2 linked regions of the Homo sapiens genome follow. The protein of the gene in region 1 purifies or fractionates together with the protein of each later gene. This does not show direct contact. Each region holds a gene or a part of one and is shown on either strand. Other genes may lie near its edges.

The links.
Region 2: the proteins of DCN (region 1) and CHSY1 purify together in Homo sapiens (affinity purification with mass spectrometry; 4 studies listed by BioGRID and IntAct, with this or other methods). This does not show direct contact.

Annotation. Positions count from the first base shown.
Region 1 is NC_000012.12:91,169,612-91,185,049, forward strand, and holds the start of DCN (decorin isoform a preproprotein), read right to left. Parts: upstream 13,207-15,438; 5' UTR 13,044-13,206; intron 9,869-13,043; exon of another isoform or gene 9,751-9,868; intron 9,036-9,750; exon of another isoform or gene 8,975-9,035; 5' UTR 8,942-8,974; coding exon 8,731-8,941; intron 1-8,730. UniProt on the Homo sapiens protein: May affect the rate of fibrils formation.
Region 2 is NC_000015.10:101,231,350-101,246,787, reverse strand, and holds part of CHSY1 (chondroitin sulfate synthase 1), read left to right. Parts: intron 1-11,210; coding exon 11,211-11,706; intron 11,707-15,438. UniProt on the Homo sapiens protein: Has both beta-1,3-glucuronic acid and beta-1,4-N-acetylgalactosamine transferase activity. Transfers glucuronic acid (GlcUA) from UDP-GlcUA and N-acetylgalactosamine (GalNAc) from UDP-GalNAc to the non-reducing end of the elongating chondroitin polymer.

The sequences.
Region 1 (15,438 bases):
ATTAGTTGACACTGGTTGAAGCTCTGTGGTGGGTACCCAATGGGGTCATTTTATTCTGCAGAATTTTCATATTTAAACATGCTCCTATAATAACATTTTTTTATAAGACTGTTATGTGAATTTCAATTCTGGTTCCTCTTCTTTATCTTTAAGATTAGAAGACATATTGAGGCCGGGCGCGGTGACTCACGCCTGTAATCCCAGCACTTTGGGAAGCCGAGGCGGGTGGATCACGAGATCAGGAGATCGAGACCATCCTGGCTAACACGGTGAAACCCCGTCTCTACTGAAAAATACAAAAAATTAGCCGGGCGTGGTGGTGGGTGCCTGTAGTCCCAGCTACTCAGGAGGCTGAGGCAGGAGAATGGCGTGAACCCGGGAGGCGGAGCTTGCAGTGAGCCGAGATCGCGCCACTGCACTCCAGCCTGGGTGACAGAGCAAGACTCTGTCTAAAAAAAAAAAAAAAAGAAAAAGAAAATTAGAAGACATATTGTTTAAACCCTCTGTCCTCAGTTTTCTTAAGTCTTTCACAGAATTTTTGTGAGAATTCAATAAGCTATGCTACAAAATAATCTCCTACCATAGTGCATAGCAGCGTCTCAAGTATTGCTACCTATGATTATTATTAATAAGCAAAATAGAGGGTGTTGCTCTCATTATCCTTCTGAATAATCTTTCTGATTATTCATCTGTAACTCTTTCTTTTCTGTACAATTACTATGCATATTATCCTAGAGGCTGAAATCTGTTTTTCAGGTATGTCAAGCACAAGGTGTTCATCTAAAGATCTTGGTCCTGAAATGTTTTTGTCTTGACAGTTATTTCCTGGTCTTTCTGCATTCATCATTGTTCCCATGAAGTTCAGGGCCTTTGGGGTGCTTGTCTACCAAGTTCAGGGCTTTTGGATAAGCCTTCAGTTTAGGAAGCACATGATCCCCAATGAGTAATTAGACTCCTCAAAAACTGCTCCTGGTCAATTTAACCCTATTTTAATGGTAGCAAATGCTACACTCTTTTGCAAATCTATAAAATATTACTCTTTGTTTGTACATCATTAGAGTCAGAATGGCTCGGGTTAAAATCAACTTGGCTGTTAAGGAGAGATGACCGGAATCTGTAAGTTAGCATTCCTCAGGCTCCATTTCCTCATCTGAAAACACCAAGCCGGAAGTAAATTGTGGTAGAAATACACGAGGACCAGAGATTATTTTTGATAATTGCAAAAAGCTTATTTGAACTAAACCTAATCTTCAAAAAATATAAAAACAGATAGTATTCTATGAAACAGTTATCCTACCTTAATTTTTTTAACTTTTAAATAAACAAATTTAAATTCTGCCTTTAAGCCTATGATTGTATTAATTGTATGTGATTTTTAACTAAATAATTCCTATTGATACTGATGAATTTTATGGTTATTCATAAAATGATATAAAAAGTAAAATGTTAGCATTTTAAATTATATGTATCAATTAGCCAGGTTCAATTTATGTCCAAAAAATGTTCCATAATGAAAACAAAGTCATTAAGGTACGACTTAATACTTTTCTCACAATCTTAAGTAGAAGAATTAAGTAACTATGAAGTTAATTTGTAAATTAATTTAATTATAATTATTTAACATCTTAATGTAGTTTGTAATCATTAAATAATGACCTTCATGGGGGACATGTAATATCTGTGGGCTTTCTCTACATAATACATAATTATGCTCAAACTTCTCATTAGAAATGTATATAAATGTAAGTAAATATGTAGATGATTATATTTTTCAAAGATGGCATACATTAAATTTTCTATCCTGCATGCTCTTCTACAATATGCATTTATCCCAATACCATTAGGAGGTAGCATCTAATTCCTCTCTCTTCCCTTTGAATTCAGGATGGCCTTGTGATGCCTCTAGGAATCAATAGCCTGAAACACCATAACATTTGAGACTAGGTCAGAAAAGGTTGTACAGCTGCTACCCAATTCTGGGATGCTTGCTCTGGGACAGCCAGGGGCCATAGGAAAAAAGAGAGGCTGTCTGAGGCAATCCAGAGGATACAACAGCCAAGCTTGTGGGCGACAGCAGCAGCAACTGTCAGTTATGAGAGTGAACAGGTGTCCAGCCCAGGCTAGCCTTCTTAAGATTATAAATCCCGGGTAACATTTGACTACAAATGCAAGAGTGACCCCAAGTGAGAACAGCCCTTCAGAGCCCTTCCCAAATTTTCCATACCTCAAGTTGTGAGCAAATTAAATTTTTTTTTAAGCCACCATGTTTTGGGGTAAAATTCACTCAGCTGTAGTAACAGGAGCATAGTGGTTTCCTACATTTATTTTTCATTGAGCAGCCTTATTTAACATAATTCTAAATTTTCCACTAAAACACACTATTTTCAAGGTAGCCTGGATTAGACATTTGCTCTCCCAGTTTTTGTAAGGAGGTTTATCTTCTTTAAAATCAAGTTATTTATTAAAGCAAATAAGATACTACTTAAGATATTACCAAAAAAATCATTTCTGAATAAAGACTAGTAAGAAATAGACTTCTTTTTTTTTTTATTTCCCTTCTTTTGGTTATCCCAATGATGAATAGTATTGTTATGCTAGAAAATGTCAGCAATCTGGTAAACATCATGTTGGACAAAGGCCAGGTTGTCTTAAAACATCATGCTTTTTTTCTGCCATGTGGCAGGAGTCCAAATTCTAAGATTTATTCTTATTGACTTTCAACAATTTTTTTTTATAATTCTGTATTCAACTTCATAATTGGGACATTGGTGGTGTACTTCAGTTTTTGGGCAAATGACCAAAATAATATTTAGGAGCTCCAGCCCCACCAAAAACTTTTCTGCTCAAGGCAAGCATGTTCCCCTTTTTCCATCTTAAAAATGGCAATCTGACTGCGTTATCAGTTAGACCAGGCTTCATACATAGATGATTCTTCTCTTTAATTCTATTCTCTTTCCAGTCAAACTCAAGGAATTTCTAAGCTTCCTGGTTTTACAGTTGTCCTTAAAGGGAAGGAGCAAGGATGCACTGAGAAATCACTTTTGTTTCTCAATCAGGCATGTTCCCTTCTCTTTGCAGCTTGCTAGAGTCAAGAATATTGTAGAATATTCATCCAAGCATTAATTCAAGAACCAAGCCATGCATATGTTCGTGTATTCATTCATCAATCGTTCAGTGATGTGTAAAGAGTCTACAAAGTATAAGGCAGTTTGTTGTGTAGAGGTTGTACGAAGATAAATTATTGCAATACTTCTTTTCTAGTGAAAAAAAATAAAATAGATATATAAAAAGATAAAAGATATTGTATAATCACAGATATGTATATATAATTGATTATTATAGAATAATCAAAGCAAATGTAGATTACAGTAAAAAAGGCAGAAGTAGGCAAGCTACAGAAGTTAAAGCAGTCCACAGACTAAGTCAAGAGTAACTGAGTCTTTACTGTTACAGTATATATGCTAAGGGCTTTCTCTTTTTATTAAGACTGAATTGCAGACTCATTTTTTTTTTAATTTTTGAGGAACTATGTAATCTTTTTCCACTCTTTTGAAGGAGAAAAGTTAAGATTAGAGGGTCTCATGGTTTTCCTCTTTTACCCAGGGAATTGATATTTTAGCTAACCAATTCCCACCATATCCCCTGGAGCTAGGGATGTTCTTCCAAAGGAAAATGAATCACAGCTGCAATCTCACAAAATGCCTTGATCCCACACAGCTGCCTCTCTCTCCCTCCTGGGGACCAAGAAGGAAACAAGGGCTATGTTAGTTGTCATTCAGGTCAGGGAGACAGACGCTCCCTTTGACCTTCTTGACTCCCTCTCTTCCTCCTCTCCATCTTTAACCCCTGGATTCAGGAGACTTGTTTAACCAGGTCACATTGAGCATTACTCTTGCTTCATCTGAAGATCACCCATACTCCACTCCTACCCAATGTCAATTTAGGCAATCCAGTGGTCATACTCTGTGCACAGCCTCCTTCCCATATCATGTTTTGGAAACACCCTTTTGGTGCATTCGAAACTCTGAATGAGGAGCACCTCACACCCCTGCTGCTGCAGAGCCAGACATAAATGATAAAGGCAACTGAGCCTCTAGCATTCTGTCTGTTCCTCTACAAAATAGTCCTAATTTATTTTTCTGGGTTGATTTCATGGGAGAAGTCTAATGGTTCATTTACCTCTTGTATAAGGTCTGCTTCTGGAAAACCAGTTTCTCCAGCCAAGCGAGAAGCTGTAGTACAATATGTCCCAAGTGGTAACTTCTGACAAAATTTTTCACCAGTTCAAGAAAAATGATTATGAAGAAGAAGCAACTACATAATTTAAAAGGTTGTACTTTTTCTGATATTTTTAAAAATTAAAACATTATTTGCATTATAAGGTACATTATTAGAAACCAGTAGTTATTTGCAATGCTTCTATATGGCAAAATTAAATGTGTTTCATCTTCTGGCACCATTTCTAGAGGGCTAAGTGTGTGGGGGTATGAATCACTTATGATTATAAAATAGCCAAATACTTCATTGTTCTCAAATCAAACAAACTCATTTTGTTCAAAGGAATATTGGTTTGGAGAACATTCAATTGCCTAGTAAATGCACAATTTTTTTTGTTCTTGTCTATTTACATTTGGAGATGATGTGGTCCTCTTTAGAGAGGTGGAGAGAGATGGTACTATTTTGTGTCTAGCTTGACAACCCATATACTTATTAGAGACTCTTAATAAGTCTCTAATAAGACTCTAAATAAGTCTCTAATAAGTATATGGCTTATTTTCAATGAGTATAATATGATATAATATGAATTGAGAATAATAAGTATAAGTCATTGAGAGTCTCTAATAAGTATATGGCCTATACCTATTATTCTCATTAATACATAAAAATAAAAGGAAATATCAGAAACAGCCTCATGTTCTTAGCCAACTTTGCCTGAAATGGTAAGTGAAATGTAAGTTACTATAATAAACATTTGTGCATATATTTTTCTATTCTTACCCAGTGAAATAAGATATATTTCCATTTATCAAATGAGGAAACAAAGTTTTGAAAGTTTCAAGGTTACAGGTAGTAAACAGCAAAGCAGAATTTGAGATCAGAGGTGTTTAACTGCACAGCCCAAGTTCTTTCCACTATTAAATAGTTTTAAGAGGCATTTTAACTCTTCTGAAATTTGTTTATAAGAAATACATCAAGAATTATTATTTTAATTTTGGAGACTAGTCAAAAGACAATACTTGTTCTTATTTGACTTGTCAGGACTGATTTGCATTTCAGTAATGAGGTGTTAAGTCCATACCAAATTATACTACCTGGTGACACTTGATCCAAAGATGAATGGCTAAGCCAAAGAGTACCTAAGTAAGGGAAGCTGTCTTCTTCAGGATGCCAAGCATATAAAATAGAAAATCCCATCAAAATCAGAACGTTTTAAATTTTTTTGATTTTTAGAAGAATGAGTTACATTGTGGATTTATTATTATAAAGTAACTGAAAGACTTCTGAATTTGCTAACTCTACATTTATTTTTAACATTGCTTTTTGAAATAAATGCTATAATTAAGAGGGAACTGGTTTATTTCTTAACATGATAGATAAAAGAAGACAAGATATGGGTCTCATAAAATTGTGGTTCCAATTACAAGGTAAGTTGCAACAAGTTCAATGAAACAACTTGGCCAATATCTATGAGGAATTCATGTTTACTGTCTCAATCCCTCATCCTCTTAAAAAAAAAAAAAAGCACGTGTTAATACTACTGTGATAAATTAGAATTAGGGACTAAAACAGTCCATGCATTTTTCCAGAGGCATCAAATTATCCTGCAGAGTAATTACATAATTTTAATTTCATAGGTTTTTACTTCTTAGCTTTGAAAGAATTGTTTAAAATTTTGATGTTGTTTAACTTTGCCAAGAATATTTCTTAGTGGTAAAAAGTAGTCAAACATTTTAATTTAAAAAGTTTATTTGTATTAAACATTATTTCGATAATAAGATGACAAAGGACTTTTGTCCTTCAACATTGTAGCTTCTCTCTGCTCATTAAGTGTCTGCCAAGGATAATCCACCAAGGATAATCCTGAAGACAGTGTTAGTCTTTGATACAGATAAGCATTAACATTTGCCATCCCCAACTGCATTGCATTTATTTTCTTTATTATAATAATTCAAGCTTCATGCTTAGATCACTAGAGGACATAAAACAAATTAAAAAATCAACTATACTGCATTTACAATGAATGAGGTGGTGCATTTCTCCTGCTTTCTTTCTTTTTTTCTTCATCTGTTACTGCATATAATCATCATATAATTTTAACACTGCATGAAGCTGCTACTATGACCCAGGTACCTCACACGATTAATAGGATTTCTAAGACTGTGATTTTTCTGCAGATGGAGATGTCAAGGCTCTCAACAGCTTGCCAGCATCATAAAGTAAGGAAGAGTTAGATAATAGTTAAAAACATGAAATGAGTTCATTTGTTTTATTTAAAGTCAAGTGAATTTCATTTCCCTTTAAGAAATGTATTTTCTTAGAGATAGCTGATTAAAACTTTTATAATATATTTAAATATTCATCTGTAAATTTTAAAATATTGAAAATACCTTGCATGAGACCACTGCTCATTGGAACTTACTTAGTTCCCTTAGTTAAATATGGTTTTAAAAACAAATTATTTTTATAATTTTAGCTACTTCCTTAGTATATGAGTCAGTAAACCTAGCTATAATAAAGGAATGATGTACACTTTGAGCTCCTAGAAAAAAGATAACATGTAGAAAACTTTCTCATCTGAAAACAAAAAATAAACAAAACAATATCAATGGCAACAACAAAACTGTCATAAAGATCCCAAGTCAGTGAACTTGCTGCTTCCTAAGACTACATTTTGTTGTTGTTGTTGTTGTTTCACTTTGAACAATTGACTTATGCCTTTTTACATAACAGAGAATTGGAAAACTGGCCCAGTGCTTTCATCAGGGTCAAGGTTTATGAGCTATTTTTTCATGGAAGCAAAGGCAAACTATATTTACGAAAAAATAAAACTTCACTAAAGTGACTGGCCAACTCTTCTTTCCTTAAAAATATCAACCCTTCATTTTTGATAATACATGTAGCGAGAGTAATAATAAATTCTTTTAACTTTTTCTCAGAGGCAAAGTGAAATTTAATTCGCATTACATTTTTTGGGAACTTCGCCATTTTAGTAACTTCAGAAAAGATTATCCTGTGTATATCCATCAAATGGTGATTTCTTTGTTCAGATTTTTTTCAACCCTGTTATTTTCCTGCCCAAGGCAATAATGCAGGTCATCTCTAGATGCTTATAAAATTTCTGAAGAGTAATCCAATCTCCCCTGTGGCAAATACACAATTCAAAAAGTAATAGTCACCACCACTAGAACATAAGATCCACAAGAACTAGGGCCATATTTGTCTTCCTCATCCTTTCTCCCCATGCCTAGAGCAGAGCTCATCCATGATGGGTTCCCGATATAGCTTCTGAATGACTGAACAAATAGATCCATTGGAATTATCCTGCGGCCTTTTGAAAGTCTTCATATAACATTTGTATTTGGGTTTTAAATAGCTATACAATATATGTGTTGAAGAAGCTATTTCAAGTGTTTTTCAGTCGTTACTACTGAATATACTTTATATTTTTTCTGGGTTCCTATAGGCAGTTTATTCCAATTGTAGAAGTTGCATTTTTCTTCTGCAAACTACTGCTAGAAAGCATGTTCTGAGTAAATATAGGACTTCTGAAAGAAGTGCCTGATCATAGTATGGAATTTCTTCCAGAAGGAAGTACACATGGCGGAATCATGATATAAAGATTTTTTTTTCTTTTCATCTCCAGTAAGAAAATACACCCCTTCAAAAGGAGGAATGTGAATGAGCTGCCATGTAAACTGAGTTCATTCCCCTTTGGCCCATCCACTGAGCTTCAATCTTTCTGGAGATTTATCTTCTAAGTGTAATGCTCTTGGAATTTCCAGACCAAATTTTTCTGAAAAGATGATAAATCAAACTGTCTTTAGGGTGTTAGGCTAAAGATATATGTAACACAATTATATTGAATATTTACACCATACCTTAGTGATAAATATTTCCTTTGAAACTTTCTAAAGAATATAAGCAGCTGGATTACAAAATGTCAAAAGTAAAGACAAAACTAAGACTCAGAGATTAAGGGAGTATTTTGATACTTGAAAGATAAGATTTTGTCATAAAATTTGATGTGTTTTGCTTTTGATAACTGATTATTTTACAATTTAGTAATGTTGAAACTCTGTTGTCTGGGCTAAGTGAATAGTAGAGAGACTGACCTGATTTTCTTAATATCTAATATTTTATAAAAGCATATTATAGAATTAAGATTAAACCATTACTCTGAAATTTTAGAACATAAGACTTTTTTAATTCAAAATTTTATTTTGTAGAAGAAGGGATATAAAGCTCAGAAATATTTTTAAAAATGATTTGTCCAAGATTGCAAAGTAATGGAGGAAAAAAGGAAGAGGGACAGAGAGGGAGAGAGAGAGAGAAAGAGAGAACAACAACGCTACTTTTCTTTCTATCCTGTTCTGCTTCCTTTACTCCTCATTAGGTGGCACTGTCTCTCAAATTTAGAGAGATTAAAACTGAAAATGCTAAACTCTCAGAGTTGCCATTCCCAAGAATAAAACAAGTAAGGTAGGTAAAGAGAAACTGCATCCCACTCACCCAAATCAGAACACTGGACCACTCGAAGATGGCATTGACAGCGGAAGGGGCACACTGGGCCTAGGGAGGGCTCGAAGTCGCGGTCATCAGGAACTTCTGGGCCTATCCCAGAAGCCTCATCTTCTAGCATAAAGTCAAATAAGCCTCTCTGTTGAAACGGTCCAGCCCAGGAAACTTGTGCAAGCAGAAGGAGGATGATAGTGGCCTTCATGATTTATCTCATGTATTTTCACAACCAGGGAACCTAGGAAACAAATGAGAGATTTAAGAAGAGTAGCACTGCCTAATCTGTGTGTCGTTTCTTATATAATATGCCACAATACAGTGAGCACAGAGAAAAGATGCAAAATAATATTTCATTTGTTATCAGGAAGCAGAGCATTAAAAATGTATTGAAAGACAATCAGGTACATTATAGTATCATTTGCACAGCTATTTACTTAGGATGAGAAATCTGAGTATTATTTAAATCTGCTTGTTTGAATTTTGGGTCTAAACTAAGATGATATACTATATATCCAAATCATTTGCAAAATTGTCATGGTAATAAATCATGTTGGGCTTTTCAATGCTCACTTAACACATGGTCAGATAAAATTATCTCTATCCACATAGGAGATCTCCAATTTCTGCTTCAGAAATATCTCTGGAAGCCAGTCACATCTCTCCATCCTACCACAATTATTTTGATCCAGGCCCTTCTCATCTCTCCCTAAACTACTACAAGAGCTTCTAATTCATCTCTGCCTTGCATATTTCCTCTATTTCAGTCCATCTTCCATTTTGCTGCCTGAGTCATCGTCTAAAAATTCAATTTTGTCTTATTAATTTCTACTATAAACCATTTATTAACTTCCTATGGCTTATCAATACTGTCCACAGTCCCTGTGCTGTATGTCAGACCACTCATAAATTGGTATGAATTAATAGCTCTAGCCACATTCCTTTTCATTGTCACTCCATTCCCAGTCCTCACCTGAACCCTGACAATCAAAGCTACTTGCCATGTAGAATACCGACCTTGCAAGAGAGTTGTAAAGATTAAATGAGATAGTGGGCTTCTCTTCTGTGTCCCCTGGCTCATCCAGGCAAGATGCTGCTTTCTCCCTCTTCTCTGCTCCCAAAGCACGTTGCTCTTACCTCTTTTAAAGAACTTATCACATTATATTGCAATTTGTTTTGCGTGCTTGGTCTGTCCCTCACTAGACGATGTACTCCTTCAGGGCGTGTCTTATTATTCCTTGTTCTGTACCCGGGCCTTGCACAATATTTTGCACACAAATGACTCAATTGACCATCACTTTATTGACAAGACGATTTATTCCATTTGTTCCAAGCAATCAGTCTGATTTTTTAAAACACAAAATTAGCTTTTTTTCAGTATCGAATTTCTGATATAAAAAAAGCAGATTGAAAACCTCAACTTGGTATAAGCAAGATCGGCTTTAAAAAATAAATCAATTTCCTAGTTTCTCAAACATTATGTTTAATAAGCTAATAAACACATATGGAAAATTCTGATTTTTATGTGATGTATATATGATCTCATTTTGCTAACAGGGCATTTTGTAAAAAAACAAGTATTGTTTTGATAAATGTATTCCATATTTATCCATTCATTCCACAAGCACGAATCTATGTTGTTAAATCAACTGAAGTGCACTAAATAAATCTGAGTGACAAAATCGTAATAAATCTGAATAACAAAAGTACTTGATTATATAGCAGCAAAGTCATTTGGGAGATGAAATATTTTTTAAATTGCATTGAAACCATTCTGATATCTCCAAAACATAGTAGATATTTAGTCCCATCATAGCAGATATTTAGTCCCATCATCTCTACCTTGAATTGTACACTTAGACGAATCCATATTAAAGCTGTACGTTCGTAAGTAGAATCTTACAGCTGTTTTGAGTCATTATCCAATTGTAGCATATTAAAAAAAAGAAGAAAGAAAGAAGGAAGGAAGAAAGAAAGAAAGAAGGAAGAAAGAAAAGGAAAGAAAGAAAGAGAAAAAGAAAGAAAGGAAGAAAGTGAAAGAAAGAGAGAGAGAGAGAGAAAGAAAGAAGAGAAGAGAAAAGAAAGATCTTTGTATGATCTAACCTTAAGGTATCTTCTGGGAATTTTTGCCTAGATTCTCTAGAGAAGAAACAAATGTTTTTCAGTTTCTTACATGTTTGTTCTTAGTTTATATTTACTACTGATATGTGTCTAAGGCAGCACATGTTGAATACAGGCTTGTGGCTTTTCATTTAACAAAATATCATAAAGATTATTATTCACACTGCCACTTTAAGTTCAACATTAAGCTTCTTCTAGCAGCCCACTCTCATTCAGTTACTGAGTATCCCTTTAAGAGAAGACTTTTGTTTTGGCAGCCTGTTCCTTTGGATTGTATCTGAGGGAGTGGTTTTGTATCTGTTTCCCATTAAAAATGCAATGTTTATGGTTTACCACAAGCTTGCTAGCCTTGCATATTTAATGTCTTACAAGTTTAAAAGAAAAATGAAGCAAAGTCATTGCAGATTTAATAAATAGCAACGACAGTTAATGCAGATGTCACTTTGAAATCTTTTCTCCAGAGCAGAACATGCCTGGTTGTTTCACTAACAACCCACAAAAAGAAAATGTTGAGTATTAGCTGAGAGAAATAGTATTATAATTTATGTTTGTTTACTCCTGTTAAAATGGTACAAATTCTCCAAACAATATTCTTTTTGATTGAAGCTGAATATAGACAGGCAGCTTATAACTTCAATCACCGACCTTTATTTCATTTTCATTTGCTCGTGTGTGTGTGTGTGTGAGAGAGAGAGAATGTATGTGTGTGTGTTCATGTGTGTGTGACAGAGAGAGAGTGTATGTGTGTGTGTGCATTTAACCCTGACTGTACTGTGAAAAAATAATTGCATGTCCAGAAACTTTGTGCAAAATCTTCCATAAAATCATCTGTTTTAAATTAGTGTCATGGTACTTCAAGACCCAGCATCTTAAAACATTTAATGTGGGCTGTCAATACTGATAATTCCTTTCGTCATTTCCTTCTTTCCTTAATTAATCAGAAATATAAAGAGCAAAGAGCAGCTGTCCAAGTAGTAACCAAAGAGATTGTTATTGAGATGATATGCTGTTTAAATTATACTGAAACTGTTTTAAGTAGTCTAAAAATGCATGACAATGTCCAAGATGCTAATTACTAATGTAATATCACTACTCCACTGAAGCTAGTTGCCATAGTTTACAAATGTTTTACCAAAAATAATAATTTCTGGTTCCTAAAACTAGTTAAGCCCATTAAATGAAGTATGTCATCCAGATCAACATTTGCATTATGTTATCTATGCCTCTGGTGTCACTTTCAAAGTCAAAATTTAACCCTCAAGAGATAAGTGAAGCTATAAATGCAAAACAAAATTAAAATCCTACAGCACTAGATGATTAAAAACTTCAATTATAATATATGTAATTTTAAAATAAAGAATAAAGGCGGCATTTATCCACAAACAAGGGTTACTATAGGAGGCATTTGGCTCTTTTCTGGTTAGAAACAGCAACAGGAAAAAAAAAAGCCACAGGTATTTACATCACTGGGAGCCCACTTAATCAGTGGTCACTGTGTTACCCTGTTTTAAAATTAGAAAATTAACCCACATCCTCATTTTATAGTGAATGTATCTTAAAATTTCACTTGCAGTGAAGATACTGACTGGGACACTTTACATTTAAGAAATTATACAGCGTTTTTAGTATCTTAGGCATTTAATAACATAAATATTTTCAATGTTTATTTTCACTTCTCTGGTGATAATTTCTGTTCATTTCTGGGGTTGAAGAAATATACATTAGGTATTTTCAGCTAATCACCAGAGTTCAGTTCTTCTGGGCTTTTAAAAGTCCTTAAAGCAATCAAAAATTCAGGAGAAAAATACATTTTTTAAATATATAGGTCAATTACAGATATGCTACTTCAGAATACTTTTCGGTTACCATCTCTTGAAGAGCTAAACATTCATTAATACAAACACAAAAACATTAATATAGAGAGTCATGGTGTTAGGTTACAGTTTTTTAAGAAGCATCTTTGCAAAAACAGAAGAGAAAGAAATAAAACAATGCATTCAATCATTTTATCAAATATTTAACTTCTGTTTTCAAATAATACTTGTTTAAAATGTTGCATAAAAACTATAAAAGTTTAACAGTTTTTTTTTTCCTTTTCTTTTTCTCACCAAATAATCCCTTTTGCTCGCAACTTGACCGAAGTTTTATTAGTCTGTAGCAGAGTTCAGGACAATTATTGAAAACCATACCTTTTAATCCGGGAATTTGCCACAGGAGCCCTCAAAGCTGAGATGTAATTACACTAAATATTCAGCCCAAGTAAAAGAGTTTGCAGGTGTGGAAAGGAGGAGGGGGTAGGTGCTGCTCTGTGACTAGGTTGAAAACCTCCTGCTTCTACTCCATAGCACAGTTAAAAAATAAGGTTTCCCTCAATGAACACAATCCGGCTGACACCCACATTAGATCATATGGTAATGATATGTCTCTTGTATTGTAGCCAGAAACTTTATCGGCCTTTTTTTTCCTCCCATTTGCTTTATTCTTTTTGCATCTGCTTAAGATTCTAAACTGCTTATGCAGTATAGTGGAGCAACTTGATTTGAAATTTGTCTTATTGTAGATTCATTTCCCTAAGATATTGTAACTAAAGGGTTTGTTTCCCCACCCCCCATCTCATTTCATTCTCCACCCTTTCTAGCCTTGTTTACAAGTAGCATTTATTATACTTCCAAAATGACATTTTTTTCTTGCTTTTGGGATGTGTAAGTCCAGAAAAATGGAATGAAATTAATCTTGTAGTTGTTTTAAATGTGGACTGCAAAAATAAATGAGTAGCCTTATGTGAAACTACTCATTCGGATTCCTACTTGCCTTGGAATGTTTGTGTAAATTCAAGCACTATGCTGTGGAGTTTTTCTGTATATTTTGGACATATTTCTAAAGTGTCCTGAAAGAAAGTCATGGTTTTATATGAAAAGTATGTCATCTATCACTTTCATTAATCATAGTTTAAAATCTTTCTCCCTGTCCACCAGTTTTTAAATAAAATACATAGATAACCTGTAGTTGATCACAACATAGTTTCATCCTCTATATATGAAAAATTTGATTTTCATAGATTATACTTTTATGTAAACTAGAACTTTGAAAAGGCAATAGAGTCTATGTGTCTTTCCAAATTTCAGTAAATGAAAAGAAAAACAAGTGCAACTACAAGGAAAGGTATTTATTTAGCCACTGGAAATCTTTTTTGAGCTTTTATAATTCCCTTGCTGGATGCTGTTAGTTGTCTCTGTGTAGGTCTCTGTGTTTTGACTTGTATCATTATGCTCTGGCCCCTAGGCTGTTACCAGGTGGAAACTGGAAATCAACAGTTTGAAACATGAGATGATCCCCCTCCCATCCTCCAGCCTCCTTCCTTCCCTCCTCCAGCCATCAAAGTATATTCTTCCACAGTAAATATTCTTTTTCCTCAAAAAAACTTAGAGAAATTAAATTCTCAAGTGGTATCTAAGGAGGGGGAGGCGTGTTACCACGTTATAGTTTGCCTTATTTCCTAAGCCCAGCCTCTCAGATAAACAATTTACCCTACTCTGCATCTCCTTAACATTTAATAACCACATATCTAGTTATTCTGATAGTTTAGACAAAGGCAAGCACTATTGTCCCTGGACATTGGTGCAAAAGTCCATGATCCCCTTTACTTGGAATTTATTAATTTCCTTTCTGAACTCTCCTTATATGGCATTTATCTCTTTTTGATGACATATAATCACTCCTGCCTCATATTATAATTATTTATGTACGTGTCTTACTCCAAGGGAGGAATGACATTGTGTTCATGTTTGTAGAATCCCTGCACCCAGAATAGCCATGGTATATACTAAGTTACCAAGATACATTTGCTAAATTAGTAAAGACAATCAAATGATTGGCTATGGACCGTACCCGGACTGGTGTTTTGCCCCAATCCTGGCTTACTGTTTATCAAAACTTAACCCTACTAAAGTGTATATGACAAATTATGGCCATCATTACAAGACAGAGAGAGAGAAAAGGAAGTATTAAAGAAAAAGTAGAAGAAGAAAAATGAGGAGGAGGAGAAAAAAAGACATAATGCCTTTTTATGTAGATAATTTTACTTTTATAAAAGCAGAACCATTATGGTTAAGATTTAGATCTTGTTCCTTCCCCCCGATAGTAAGCTATATGAACTCAGGCAACTTGCTTAACCTCTCTGAATTTCAGTTTCCATATCTGAAAAATGGATACAAATTCTTACCTAACTCATAGTGTTGGAGTGGAGATTAAATAAGGCAATATATATAAAACACTTAACTCAGAACTTAATCCTTATAAGTGAAAATCTCTGTAAATGCAAGCTTTTATTATGTCTTGACATATTTCAAAACAATCCTTTGAGTTAGACAAGATAAGTCATATTTACTATTTCTGTTTTACAAATGAGAAAATTGAAGCCCAGTGACTTGCCCAAGTTCACAGAGCTGGCAAGAAACAAAGCAGAAACTAATATCCAGGTCTTCTCATGCCTAATCCACTTTTCATTACTAAACTATACTAAACTATAATGTATCTTAAGAAAGAGGAAGCAAATTCTTACATATAGAAAAGTAATTATCAAAG
Region 2 (15,438 bases), on another chromosome or scaffold:
TACCCCAGGTTCACAGTTACTGCCCTGGAGAGATTTTTAAAGGTAACGTTTCCTTCCTAATTCTAGAAAGGGTAGAAATCATCTCAACTTTATTTTTTCCCCAAATAGTATGTGGTCGCAGCACCATGTACCGTTGACTAAGTTCTCATTTCCCTACCAGTTTGAAATGCCATCTTCGTCATGCTCAGAATTCTTGGGTATGTTTCTGGACTTCATGTTTTGTTCCGTTGAACTTTCTGTCTGTTCTTGTGCCAGTACCACCCATTGAAATTATTGGAGGTTGAATAATATTTTAATATCCGGTGGACAAGTTCCCCTTTGTTATTCATCTGCTTCAAACATTTCTTGGCTACACTTACCTTTTCTTGCTGAGAGAGTTTCTGTGCTATTTAGATTTTTTTAATCAACGTTTTGATTAAAAAAAAAAAAAAGCCACACGTATTTTGCTTATTCGTCCATTTTTATGCCCAGAACCTTGAGCTAATCCAACACCTTTTGTTTGTTTTGGTTCTTACCCTCTCTGGGCTGAAGATGGGGAATAGTTTTGTTCTTTTTTTATGTTGTCAGAAGAAAGAGGTGGATGGTTTCCCTTCTTTGCGCCAAGATTGAACAAGGGCACCATTACAGATTAGCATCAGTCTGTAGGGGACTGTGGGAAGAAAGTTTGAGAAGCATTACCTAGAGATATAGGAATCTGATTTCAGGATACTATTATCAGTGAATGATCTCTTCCTAATGCCTTAAATGAAGACGGACTGTTCCTCTACCAACCTTAATGAGATCCTCCTATCTTATAAATCTGAATTCATTTCCTTATTTCTTGAGCTAAGTAAACCATGTTTATCTTGAAACAGTTCAGAGCAGTCCTCACTTTCTTAGATAGAATTCAACTTGGCAAACATTTATACAGAAGGCTTTTCCATGTAAAATCCAAATAATCAACCTGTAAGTGAACTTTTGGAGCACCAAGTCATTTCAGATCGTGAATTTCCTGTAGGAGACTAGGGAACCATGTGGCTCTGAAAATGAGTGTAGTTTTTTATGTCAGGTTCAAGATCTTGAAGCGCTCAAACAATATTCCAGGGATTTCCAGGGATGGCTGTGGCTGTCAATAGCGGATTGATTCCAGGGATAGATGTGGCTGTCAATAGCGGATTGTGCGTGACTGTTTCCATTGCACCGGCAGCTTCACGTTCCCCTGTCTGTTAACTAAGCTGCTCTTTATTAACAGTAGATTCCAAATACAGGGCCCTAGTCTCTGCAGAGTTCATTGTCTCAGAAGGAAACGAGCGATGGTATTGGTTGATGAGGGCTGTCAGGGTGCGTGAACTAATCACTGTGGGGGAGCAGAAGAAAGAGGCTTACACCCAGTGGGTGATGGATCAAGAAATGTCTCACCCACACTCCCACCCTTTTTTTACCCACTAGCTGAGTCTTGGAAGATGAAGAGGTGTTTTTGAGGCAGAGACAACTACAGGTTTCCTACAACATGAAATGGCAGGAGTTAGTGAAGGAGCGATGGGAAAGGCCAGCTCTTTGGGGCTAGGTGTAGGCTGTGGGTGGTAGAGTGGTGGGCAGGGACATGGAGGGAAGGTCTGCGTGCCAGGCTTTGTGTGGTTGCTGTCCAGAGCTATTGGTGACATTTCGGCAGGACAGTAGCCTGATGGGATGTGTGTTTTGGAAGATCAGCCCAGCGGTGTTGCTGCTGCAGAGGGTGGCTAGAGTTGGTCAAGTACCGGTACCTAGCTAGAGCTGGACAGGACCGGTACCTGTTGAGGGACGCTTGGGTAGCATTTATCAAGAAGTCTAAAATGCAGCTCTCTTGAGGTCTGGCAATTGCTCTAGAATTTTTTCCAAAGGAATTTTAAAGGTGTGCTTAAATGTGTACATATGAAGTGGAAATTTCAGGTATTTTAGGTGTCCTGCTTTAGGAGATAAGGACCAAAATTGACTTAACTGATTCATCCATACTGTGGTCTGCATCTCTAACAAGTAAAAATGGTGTGGCTGAAATACTTTTATTGACATGAGGAGAGGTTCAGAATATACTTAAGTGAAAGTAAACTGTAAAACAGTATGGCCAGTACAAAGCCCTTCTGTGTTTAAAGTAAAACAAAAGTGTATGTTTGTGTAGCATAGAAAAGGAAACATCAAAGGATGTACTCACTGTGATGCCAAGTGATCTTTTATATTCTTCTTAGCTCTTTTCTATATATTCTGGTTTTTCTACAGTAAGCAGTTATTTTGTAATAAAGCTACAGTAAAACCACAAAAAGATGTCAGCTCTAAGAGAAACTGCATTCCATTTTGAGCACGTTAGGCTGCTGGTGTGGAGGTCCGCTAGGCACAGAGCTGCAGCCCGTTCTCGTTTCAGTCAGTTACCATTAATTCTGTCCTGAAGTGACAGAATTAGCTTAGCACACATTTACTTGGTTAGTGTCACAACCGTTTTCCTCAGTTACTGTAACTTCACGCTTCCAGGTGACATTGGGGAGGATCTGGTGGCAGCATTTTCAGTGCAGGGGCCTCAGCTTTTGTATCTTAATGTAAATACTCAGTGCTTCCACCTGTTGTTGAGGCCTTTTTGGCTTCTGGTTCCGGATGGCATTGGGTGAACAAGAAAACCTAGCTACAGTTTACAAGCATAAAAGCTGTCCATCTTCTCACCTGAATTCAGTGTCATCTCTGAAGCATTTATAGCTGCAGCATTTTTTCTGTAGACAAATACATTTTCTGGATGATTACAAATAAGGTCCAGTCTGCTCTGATGTGGTGTCAAGTTGATGCCTGTAAACCAAAAGCCTGAGGATTATTGACTGTAGGTGTTGAGGCCATTGAAATTGTGGTTTTCTAGGTGGACCATAGGCGCAAAGACTGTTACACTTTGCTCGGCGTGTTTGGTAACTGATGGCAGTGTCTGCAGGTAATTGGGCACAATTTAGAGGCGCACACGGATCCAGACACAGAATGTGGCCTCAGAAGCTAACACTGGAATCAAGTTGTCTGGCCTTCAGTTAAATCCAGCCCAAGCACTGCAAAGTTGTCCTTGACCGGCAGGTTTTGTCCAGGTTTTCAAGTCGCCAAGCCATGCATGCTGGGAGTGGGTCTGAAAGTGGTTGAAGTGTGTGTAAGGCTGGTCTCCTTATCCACGATGACTGTTTGTTCAGCCTTAGCAGTGTCCGTGAGCCTGGAAAAGTGATGTGGGTGACCACCTGGGAGGCGCGTGTGTGGGATGGAAAGCCAGTGTGGAGGCTGTGGGGCCAGGGTGGCTGGTGACTGTGTTTAGGTGGGCTTTATAGAGGACGGTGCCTCAGTTCAGGGAGACGGTGATTTGCAAAGTGGTCGGCCAGAACAAGTTCAGGGTGGTTTAATTGTTTGCATTAAACGATACTGATTTTTGGTTCATGTGGATCATTAAGTATTAGTCGCATATTTATACTTTTAAGGATACAGCAGCGATATGCAAATTATGAAAGGAGCTCTCCAACACTTTCAAGCTTTGGAAATGTCTCATGAGATCAGAATTCGTCTTCTGTCATTTACACTCCAAATTTTAATTGTGATGTTTCAAAAGTGGCCTATTTGTGGTCTCTGTTCCCATTGTTTGCCGTGAACCTGGGCTCAAAGGGCGGGCTCCTCGTAGCTCTTAATACCTTGGAATGCCGTCTGGGCTTGTGCCCAGGCCATTGTTGAAGTGGGAGGCTGTAATCCCCCCTGCCAACAGCTTAATTAAGAAAAAAAAGGGCTCTTTACTGCTTGCTTTCCCCTCAAGTCTATTTTTTAGGATGGACAGTAAGGAGTATAATTTGGTTTTTCTTTTAAAATAATTTTCCCACCATTCACAGCCTCTGTTACATTTTCCCACCTCCTTTCAAAAAGGGTTTGAGATTGGACAGGTCATAAGGACGTGCACGATGAGACAGTTAAAGGTTTTGAAAGAGGAAACCACATACCCGGAAACCACATGCACAGAAGTGGGAAACTGCAGCTGAATGCATTTGCTGCAGAGCTTTTGGGACCAAGGCAGAAGATGGAGATGAGGGATTGAACAGTGTTTGCAACATCCTGCCAGAGGGGATTCCTTCCGGCCGAGGAGAGGCCCGTGGCATCACTTGGTGGCCTTGAAAGACCCCTCCCTTTTCTGAAGGCTGTGGCTCTGGCTGGCAGCATAGAGTGGTGCCCTCCGTGTACTCTCTTGGAGGATGAACTTGGACTGCTGCTCCATCACACTGTACTTCCTGTAAGGATACCTCCATCATTGACCTTGGGAGAAGTTTCCCTCAGGCCTTAGTATGTTTTTACACTTAACCCTGAACAGTAGGACACAGTCTCGTGACTTCTCATGGCTGCCTGCTGAAAAGTTTGTAGCTGAATTTGGGCCCACCACTAGCACATCCGTAGGTCACGTGATGGCAGGTAGGTCTCAGCACAAGAGCACTTTGCAGTTGAAGTGGTGGCTCCTGAGAGTGCTCTCACTGAGTCAGGGTTTGCCCTGGGCAGGGCAGCCTCCACCAGGATTTGCCTTTCGTTCCTTGCGTAAGGGTTTCCTACTCTTACTTTTCTTTGGTCTCATTTTCTTGCTGATTTTTCTCATCCTGTATGATTTTGGTTAAGTTGTCTTAAATCCCTTCTGTAACAGGGGAGAATGTAAATACAGCTGGCCCTGCTATCTGCTACATCTGTGGATTCCACCATCCATGGATTGAAAATATTTGGGGGGAAAAACAATAGAAAATAACAATAATAAAAACAATACAAGTAAATACAATATAGTATAACGACTATTTACATAGCATTTACATTGTATTAGGTATTATGAGTAATCTAGAGACTATTTAAAGTATACAGGAGGGTATGTGAAGGTTTAAGCAAATACTGCACCATTTTATATCAGGGACTAAAGCGTCTGTGGATTTTGGGGTCCTGGGATCATTCCCTCTTGGATGATAAGGAACAGCTGTATATACCCTTAATTCCTATTATCCATCAGTTCTACAGAGAGAAAAACCCATATCCTCCCTTCTTTAACTTCCAAGATGATTTTATCATGAGTCCTTTTAAACTGACTGCCGTGTAGCCATCAGACAGCACATGTAATAGTGATTTTGGGGAACTCACAGAAAATCTCCCCACCTTTTTAATGGTAACTAGTAGAATAACTATTAAAGCTTAAAAATCACAATTGAAACGACTCAATCTTACTCCATTTTTCTTTCAGTTTTTCTTGTTGGATAAAAAAATTTTATTACAAAAGTAAAAATTCTCTGTTGTTACATGTTTTGATTTCTTTGGTTGCTTGTTAGCCTCAAAGCTTTTGCCCAGTTAAAACTTTTTTTCCAGCTCTAAATATACCTGTTGCAGAAAACTTAGAAAATTTAGAAAACACAAGGAAGACTATTGGCCGGGCGCAATGGCTTCCGCCGGTAATCCCAGCCCTTTGGGAGGCCGAGGTGGGCGGATCACAAGGTCAGGAGTTCGAGACCAGCCTGACCAACATGGTGAAACCCTGTCTCAACTATAAGTACAAAAATTAGCTGGGCGTGGTGGCAGGTGCCTGTAATCCCAGCTACTCGGGAGGCTGAGGCAGGAGAATCGTTTGAACCTGGGAGACGGAGGTTGCAGTGAAATCACGCTGTTGCACTCCAGCCTGGGCGACAGGGCCAGACTCCGTCTCAGAAAACAAAAAAAAAGACTATTAAATCCTTTCTGGTTTTCCCATCCAAAAATAACCACGGTGAATACTTTGGGGGTGGAGTTGTACGTTATTTTATTTTTGTATATGTACTTTTGTTCCCTTGGTAAGCCACATCACAAGTATATACTGTTGCCTGCTTTTTAAGCTTACCCGTATATTATGAATATTTACCTAGGACAAGAGTCATGCTATAGATGCAGTTTTGTACAGAAGTGTATTTTATGTAGTTTTTCTTAAAACAACACTGAATGGAAATGGAGACTATGATATTAACCCATTTATGCCTAGAGTTCCATTATTGGAACGCTAAGCTTGTGGGAGTTATTTATATCCCGCTCAAGGTTATCACCAAAGTCTGATTTTTTTTCCACACAAAAAAATCGCAACCTCTGACATAAATGGGTTAAGTCCTAACCAGCAAAGGCATTCCTTAGCTAAGCTAATACTGGTCCAGCTGAATTACTTAACTGTGATTTGACTCAGTGTAGGAATAGCGTTTAGAAACCTAGAGTGATGGAGGATTCACTTGGCACTCTCAAGTTTCAGCTGTCTTATCTGGGCTTGAGCAAGGGTTGGACATCAGTTCATTGAAAATGAGCTTTTTCTGGCAAGGCCTCTGCAAACGTTTTGTCATTTCAATTAAGTGAGAGTTCTTTGCTCCCGGTAACAAATGTGTTGATGGCAAAGCTGACGTTTGCTTATGAAAATGAAGGAACTGGACTTGTTGATATTGCAGAAGAGGGGACAGCTTGCTTCTTTGGGAGCATTCCCTTCAATTATTTGAAATTATTAATGCATCCCCTCCTCCTCCTCAGGATGGTGGTGAATCACGATTTATGTTCCTGAACTCGTTCACTTTGTGGAGCTCTTCAAGTTAAAGGACCCTAATTGAAAAGATTATAATTTCTTAAGATTGGAGGGTTTACAAAGACTTGACATTGAGAGATTTCCCTCAAACCAACCACCAGTCATTTAGAACAGAAAAGGACAACATGAGGTTTTTCCCTGAGTTACCTAAAAAGGAACAGATAATAATTGGGTGGAGTTACCATAAAACTGTAGGGTTGAGGTTAGACTGTTTTTAAAATTAATTGGTTTCTCTTCTTGGGCAAATTACACCATTTCAGTCATAGTTGAGACATTAATTGCGTCTGTGCTGGTTGTACTGCTGGGGCCTCTTTCACTGTGTTCTTCCTGGTGGGGTACACGGGAAGCAGGGCCAAACTATAATGAAGCTTCATCCTCAGTCTAGTAGGGAAGTTTCTCGTGCTCTACCGCGAAATGCTCGTGAAATTTGCAGTTAGGCCTCTTTCCTGTAACATTGTCTGAAGTTGATAGTAAAAGAGGATTTCAGTACATAGCTTGAGGCTCAGGTTTTAAGAAGCATTTTCCACATTACCTTTGCTCCGTGTGCTCCTGAGACTGACTAGTCCACGTGGAGCCCACACTTTCCTGTTCTTTCACTACCTTATTTGATTTGCAAACTCTTGTCTTCCTTAATAATAAGTCATACTTACATAGTGCCAGGCAGGCTTCTAAGCTGTTTACAGAGAGCTCATTTAACCCTCACAACAACCCCCGTTTACAGATAAGGAAACTGAGGCACAGAGTAACTTGTCCCAAGTGGAGCTGGAGTTCTCGCCCCCATGGCCTGATTCCAGAGCCAGCTCTTGCGGTGATGCTGTAGATTCGCCTCCTTAGTTGGTTGTTCTTTGAAGGCAGGAATTGTCTCGCCCACCCCATCTCCCAAATAACATTACAGTGTTTTAGTATTTTCATGGCTTCCTAGGTTGAAAATTTCTCAAAGTACAAGATAGAAATGATTTCTGACCTTTTGCAAACACGTGTGGCACCATTAAGTTACTTATTGTACATGAGTGGGCAGTATTCAGTGCACACATTTAGTGACCTCTATTATGTGCCAAGCACTGAAATTATTTACATTTTCAAAGAATTGTTGCGACTGCCAAATGAAAAACATTTCTCTATAAAGAGAGCATTATCAGGGGCTCCTCGACTTGAATGGGGGGTCATTGCACTATAATTTTGTCCTTACTAACTTCCCAAGGCTGGAGGAGTTCTGAGAAGTTATCTCCCCTCCATATGTCACCGCATCAGAAGACTCTGTATAGCTTGTCACACATTCACACATTGTCGCATTTGCAAAAGGACTTGTCCCTTTGTAGGTGGGATTGGTTTTTCTTTAAATTAATTTCCACATCTCTACGTTTATTCTACATCCTTTTTCTTCAGGAGCATATCCTTTGTGAAAATGAAGTGCAGTACCTAGAACAGTATCTGTTAATAACCGTGGAATGAATGTCTGGGCTGAATTTGTTTTTTGTTGTTATTCTTGTTCTTTGTTAATGAGTTATTTAAGTGGCGTAAGAATACAGGTCCATTTTAAATCCATAGGCACTAAGGGAAAACATTAACAACACCATCTTATATCCATTCTGTGATTTTGACATCTCAGAAATTAGGATGCATTTTATAGTTACCGGCGTCATGGGATTATGATTGGCAGTATTTTTTAAATTTGTTGATAGATAAAACAATGGTGCATCTTCCAGTTAACATCCTAAATGTGATGAAAAAATGTATATATTTAATCCTTGCACTTTTTGAGAGGCGTGTTGGCAGAAAGTCGAATTCCATTGAATTTTGCCTCTACTTGAAAGAGATACATTCGAAGTTGTTTTGTATTCCTCATATTTGGGTTTGGAAGAGAAATAAAAGCCAGTCATTTGTTTTCCAAGTGCTTCATTGTAAGTTCTTTTTAAAATTACAAAAGTAAATATTTAGAATCTCAGTTTTGCAAGATGAAAAAAGTTCTGGAAATGGATGGTGCCGATGGTTTCACAACACTGAATGCTGCTGAACTTTACATTTAGAAATGGTTAAGATGGTAAGTTTTATGTTATGTATATTTTATCACAATTTTTTTTAAAAAAAACAATATGATACTTATGCAGTTGTCCTTCAATATAGAGATGCATAGAATAAAAAGTGAAAGTCACCTTTGTCCACACACATTCCAGCTCCTCCCAATTTTCCTCCTTGTGTACCTCTTCCGCAGAGATTTGGTGTGTATCTTTTCAGATATTTCTCTCCTAAGACTTTCCCTTAAAGATGTGTGGGGGTTTCATTGATCCTTCAAGTAATTTTTCACTATAATAAATACACTTGTAACAGGTAAAATAAAAAATATTTGAAAGAACATCATTTGATAACTGCTTTTTTTATTTTAAGATTAAATTTACTATTTTATTTATTCTCCACGATACATTTTTCTTGGAAGTAGTCTGTATGAATGAATTATTATAGCCAAACAACTTTAGATCTGAATACAGAACGTGAAGAAAGTAGGAGGGAAAGTGCGATATGATAGCCTTCAATTAGCTGCTCAGCAGAAGCAGCCTTTACGTGGTTTCCTCGCAGTTGACCACTCATCTTCCCTCTGTCGATGGGCAACCGTTGTCTCTTACACCCTTTACGTGGTTTCCTCGCAGTTGACCACTCATCTTCCCTCTGTCGACGGGCAACCGTTGTCTCTTAAACCCTTTATGTGGTTTCCTCGCAATTGACCACTCATCTTCCCTCTGTTGATGGGCAACCGTTGTCTCTTAAACCCGGGTCTGGGCTGCTGCAGTAGTTTACTCAGTGGTCTTCCTGTGTCCACTCTGGCTTCCTTCGGCCTTCTTCTCCATTCCTAGGGAGTTCAAAATGTGTGGGCCTTAATCTTGTCTTCTGCCGCATTCCCTCTAGAGGCTTCCTGTGGCTCTTGCAACATAGAGGCCTGCATCTCTAGTGTACTCTGCCAGGCCTTGCACATTTGCCTCTGTTTTTTTTTTTTTTTTTTTTTTTTTTAGATGGAGTCTTGCTCTTTTGTCCAGGCTGGAGTGCAGTGGTGCGATCTCGGCTCATTGCAACCTCTGCCTCCCGGGTTCAAGCAATTCTTCTGCCTCAGCCTCCTGAGTAGCTGGGATTACAGGCACACGCCACCATGCCTGGCTAAATTTTGTATTTTTTTTTTTAGTAGAGATGGGGTTTCACCATGTTGGCCAGGCTGGTCTTGAACTCCTGACCTTGTGATCTGCCTGCCTCGGCCTCCTAAAGTGCTGGGATTACAGGCATGAGCCACTGCCCCCGGCCACATTTGCCTCTATATTAGTCTGTTCTCACACTGCTGATAAAGACATACCAAAATAGGTAATTTATAAAGAAACAGAGGGGTTTTTAAAATTATTTTATTTATTTATTTTTTTGAGACAGAGTCTTGCTCTGTCTCCCAGGCTGGAGTGCAGTGGCACGATCTCGGCTCGCTGCAAGCTTCGCCTTCCGGGTTCATGCCATTCTCCCGCCTTAGCCTCGCTAGTAGCTGGGACTACAGGCGCCCGCCAGCACGCACGGCTAATTTTGTTTTTGTATTTTTAGTAGAGACGGGGTTTCACCGTGTTAGACAGGATGGTCTCAATCTCCTGACCTCATGATCCGCCCGCCTCGGCCTCCCAAAGTACAGGGATTACAGGCTTGAGCCACCATGCCCGGCCCAGAAACAGAGGTTTAATGGACTCACAGTTCCACATAGCTGGGGAGGCCTCACAATCATGGTGGAAAGTGAAAGGCACGTCTTACTTGGTGGCAGACAAGAGAGAATGAGAGCCAAGCAAAAAGGGAAACCCCTTGTAAAACTATGAGATCTCATGAGACTCACTCCTGACCATGAGAACAGTGTGGGGGAAGCTGCCCCCGTGATCCACTTACCTTCCCCTGGGTCCCTCCCGCAACATGTGGGAACTGTGGGAGCTATCATTCAAGATGAGATTTGGGTGGGGACACAGCCAAACCGTATCAGCCTTCTTCCTCGCCTCATGACAGCGCTCTCGTGCCCTGCATTCCTTGATGTTTACCCTGTTTCAGGGGAAGGCTCCCTGTTCTGTTGGTTCAGCTCATGTCCTGTGCTCTGCCCTTTGGGAGTACTTCTCTTAGTTCATAATAATATATACATTAGTCTCATTATTCTGGTAAGTGTCTGTCTCTCCTGATGTCCTCTCTGTGAGTTGGGGATCACGTTTTTGTTCACCACCACATCCCTTTAGCTTAGCACATACTTGGCACTTGGTTCAAAGAAAATTTTTTGAGTGAACCATTTGATTTTGTTTTTTGTTTTATAGAGTTGAGAAGTTCTTAGGTAGGGAGTTGATAGTATCACAAAATTAATCTGTATACCCAGACCTTGGTCCCCTGGCAGTTTGGTTTTCAGCCATAACTAAAACTTAGTTATCCCAGAACAGTTTTAACACTTCTTCATTTTTTGTTGGGGTTCTTTTGAAAGTTAATTTAGACTTTGCAATACGCGGTAACCTGGGCTTTCGTTAAGAGGAACCAAGCAGGCCAAGTAGCTTTTTATCATTCCATTGAACACGGCGATACAAGATGAGCAGATAACGTGAATTCCTGAAAATCAGCTTGGAATAAACTGTTCTCTAACTGATATTTATTTTAATTCCAGAACATGGTCCAAGACAATTCCTGGGAAAGTTCAGTTCTTCTCAAGTGAGGGTTCTGACACATCTGTACCAATTCCAGTAGTGCCACTACGGGGTGTGGACGACTCCTACCCGCCCCAGAAGAAGTCCTTCATGATGCTCAAGTACATGCACGACCACTACTTGGACAAGTATGAATGGTTTATGAGAGCAGATGATGACGTGTACATCAAAGGAGACCGTCTGGAGAACTTCCTGAGGAGTTTGAACAGCAGCGAGCCCCTCTTTCTTGGGCAGACAGGCCTGGGCACCACGGAAGAAATGGGAAAACTGGCCCTGGAGCCTGGTGAGAACTTCTGCATGGGGGGGCCTGGCGTGATCATGAGCCGGGAGGTGCTTCGGAGAATGGTGCCGCACATTGGCAAGTGTCTCCGGGAGATGTACACCACCCATGAGGACGTGGAGGTGGGAAGGTGTGTCCGGAGGTTTGCAGGGGTGCAGTGTGTCTGGTCTTATGAGGTAAGAACAGAATTCTTTACCATGGGAAAAACTTAATTTTGTCAATTTTGTCATTAGTTCTGAGCGTATCATAGGAAACTAGAGATGATATCCTCTTTGAGGGTTGAAGTTGGTATTATTCTACATTTTTAGCCTTAGATTAAAAAAAAAATTCAGTTCCCCTTTATTACCTTTTCTTGGCTTTGAGCGCATATCTTCTGTACTTTTTCTCCCCCCAGAGAGAGTCTTGCTCTGTCTCCCAGGCTGGAGTGCAGTGGCGCCATCTCGGCTCACTTTAACCTCCGCCTCCTGGGTTCAAGCAATTCTCCTGCCTCAGCCTCCCGAGTAGCTAGGATTATAGGCAGGCGCCACCACGCTAGGCTAATTTCTGTATTCTTAGTAGAGACGAGGTTTCACCATGCTGGCCAGGCTGGTCTCGAACTCTTGACCTTGTGATCTGCCTGCCTCAGCCTCCCAAAATGCTGGGATTACAGGCGTGAGCCACGGCGCCCGGCTCTTCCATACTTTTGTCCTAATACTTAGTTAATAAATAATGGCATTTGGGGCCTAAAGAAAAGATAATGGGTTGCTGATGGTCATGGTGATATTTTCTTGATTATCCAGAAAATCATCTTGTCTGACTTCTGCTGATTCCACAGATGTAATTGCAAGAATGTAGGATATCTCCCTATTTGTTTTTGCAAAGGCCTGGCTCTTCTCTTCTGGTCATAATGACCTACACAGATTAGAAACTTAACGTGTTTTGAATTTATAAAAGGAATCATGGTATAAAAAAGCCAATAGCATTTGACTTCGCATTTGTTGTGTACCTTGACTGTTCAGATAGTTACTTTAATCTGTGAGTTTATAATATAGTTGTTGCTTTCAGAATAGTTGTCGTGCAACTTCTGAGTTACCGTGACACATAAATGAAATTTGCCGAAGGAAGTCCGCTTGTAGATGTTTTCTCTGTAGCAGTTGTAGAGAAGATGGACTGGCTTTGGACTTTCCTGTGTTGTTGCTGCACCCTTTGCCTGCAGATTGCACAATCTGATACCAGTTAATGGTGAAAAAAATTATTGAGGTTGTATTGTCTTTAGGTTGATAAACTCCTGGCAGTTGTGAGGAGCAGAGGTAATTGCTAGATCTTTTGCCCAAGAAAAAGAATACACTTTCTAATATGAACTGTTAGCTTTTTTCTGAACTAATGTTCTAAAGCACGTACTTGAGTGAAAGAGCAGTATTCTTGCCTGTACTTGTCCACCCCTAGACTTGCTTTTAAATGTCTGCTAATCACTCTTACTTTTTTTGTTGTTTGAACTTTAGGGAAGTGGACATTTTCAAGCATACAGGGAGTGGCCATGTAATTTTTAATTACAAAGTCACAAAGATACATTTTAAATCCTAAATGTGATCTTGAGTGAACTCTTCAATCCCTGTGTGCCTTATACTATCCCCCCAACCCCAGCACATAGGGGACAGCTCACTGGGCCTACGGGATCTCTCTGTCGTCACGGATTTTTGCAGCGAGGAAAGCTGTTTGAGGGTTTCACGCTGTTTTAAGCAGAATACAGCTGGCAATATTTCTGCATTTTTCCCCATCCTAAGAAAGTAGTTATAACCTTGACACATTTCATTATGGTTAAAATAGGTAACACATTGTATATTTTGGAACACTTTCCCCTGACCATCATCTCCGAGAAGCCAACCTTCTTGCCGGAATCATAGAGGACAGACCTTCTTTCGGGAGAGAATTTTTAAAAGTATGTCTTAGTTAGGTCGTGCTGTTATATACTGCTGGACAGACACCAACAGAGCCAGTCTCTTGAGTTTGATCAAGAACTTGGGTTTAGCGTTAGTGCCAAGAGGTAGTTAGAAAGTGTCATCCTGGGGCTGCAGGGTGGGAGGCCATTTTGGAGATGATTTTCCTCTGACGGGAGGTAATCACAAAAGGTTTCTGATGGCCTGCGAAGGGGTGCATGGAATGATCCTGTCTGGACACTTGGAGCCCCCTCTGAGGCTTGGTGCATCCTGTCAGTGGCCTCATCAGCTGAAGGGACCTGGTTGGTGAGGAGGCCTCCTCCCCGTGTGGTCCCGTCTCCCTGCCTTGGGAGGTGGGTCAGGGACAGCAGCAGCAAGGCTCTCCTTGGGAGTGTGGTTATTGGGCCTGCTGCTGCTCTGCGTTTCTTTAAATGCCCTGTGGTGTCAGAGCTTTGACTGACTGCTGCAGGCTTCTCCTGGGCTTGTGCCACAGGGCCCTCCCACCTGCAGTGCCCAGAGCTCTCTTTTTCTCTTCTGTGAGCTGCCTTGCCTGTTCGTAGTCTTGGCCCGTATTTCTGCTGAAATGTTGTCTTACAGTTTTGTTGAAGTGCTTTATTCTGGATAGAGTATCTTTTCTCAGACTGTGACTTAACTTTTCACCTTAATTGTGGGATTTTTATTGTACGCAAATTGTGAATCTAAGTGCAATCTAATGCATCATTCTTTTCCATTACGGTTTGTGCTTTTGTGTTTAAGAAATTCTTCCCTTCCTTAGGTCACGAATATGTTTTCTCCTGTATGTTTTCTTACATGTTTGAAGTGTTCCCTTTCACGTGTAGTTCTTCATTATAATGTTAAGAATTCATCTATTGGAACACTTGCCATCTTATTAGACCTTTGATTTCTATTTTTTTATTTTTCTTTTTATAAAGCTTTAAGTGCTTCTAACCTAAGTTGTTATTAGGTTTATCATTGTGTTCACCACTCAGGTAAGATTAATCCTTCGTGTGGATGAGGAACTTTTATTAAACTTCCTGTAAATCTAGTTTCCCCATTAAGGTTCACATTATGGGAAATTATTGAGGTGGAGTCTTATGTTAAAGACAATTACGTTAAGCTTTGGGACTTGGAAGGTACTTATTTTGCCCTATTATAAGCCTAGCCAGAAGGTATAGTGTTTTTTTTGGCGAGTAGAAATAGTACCTTGGGATGACACTTAGGTAATTAAAATGACTTGTGAGGAACAACTGTCAAAATCAAAGTCTAGATTCATTTCTAAACTTGTTTTGATAATTATTGGTGGTTATTAAAAAATAGCCTTGAGAACTTTGTTTGGAAATAATGTTAAACTCACAGAGAAGTCAGAGGATAGTGAGAGTGTAGGCCTGGAGGCTGGGGAAGAGCTGGGAGGAGCTCAGCTCCTGGCTCCCCTTGCCACATGGTGTCAGCAATATTGACTCAACTCAGGTGAGGTGTTTTTGAGAATTATTATTGAAAATTTTGAAATAGGAATTCATTTTATCAAGGCAAATACATGAAAAGCTATACTACTCTTAAGAGGGAACAAAAAGAAAATTGACTTAAGTAACCTATTCATTTTGTCTTTGACTTTTGCTTCGACGTGTACTGTACGTATGGAAAAGTGCATAGGTCGCAAGGGTCAAGCCCAGTGGATTTTCACAGACTGCACGCAGGCAACCAGTAGATCTTTCTTCTATTATTTTCTCATATTTGACTAGGGGTGAAGCTGTAGACAGTAATGATTATTGATGAAATTTGGAGATAGGCAAAGGTGGATTTGACAGCTTTAAAATATTAATTGTTTTTAATAGCCAATACTGTCACGTGGCTCAAAATTCAGAAGTGCAAAGGGCTTATAGGAATACGTCTTCCTTCCTCTGCCTCCGGCCCCTGGGCTTCCGCTGTGAATTAGCCATCATGGTGCCTCAGGTTTCCTGCGTATCATATCATATACAAACAATTAAGTTTCTA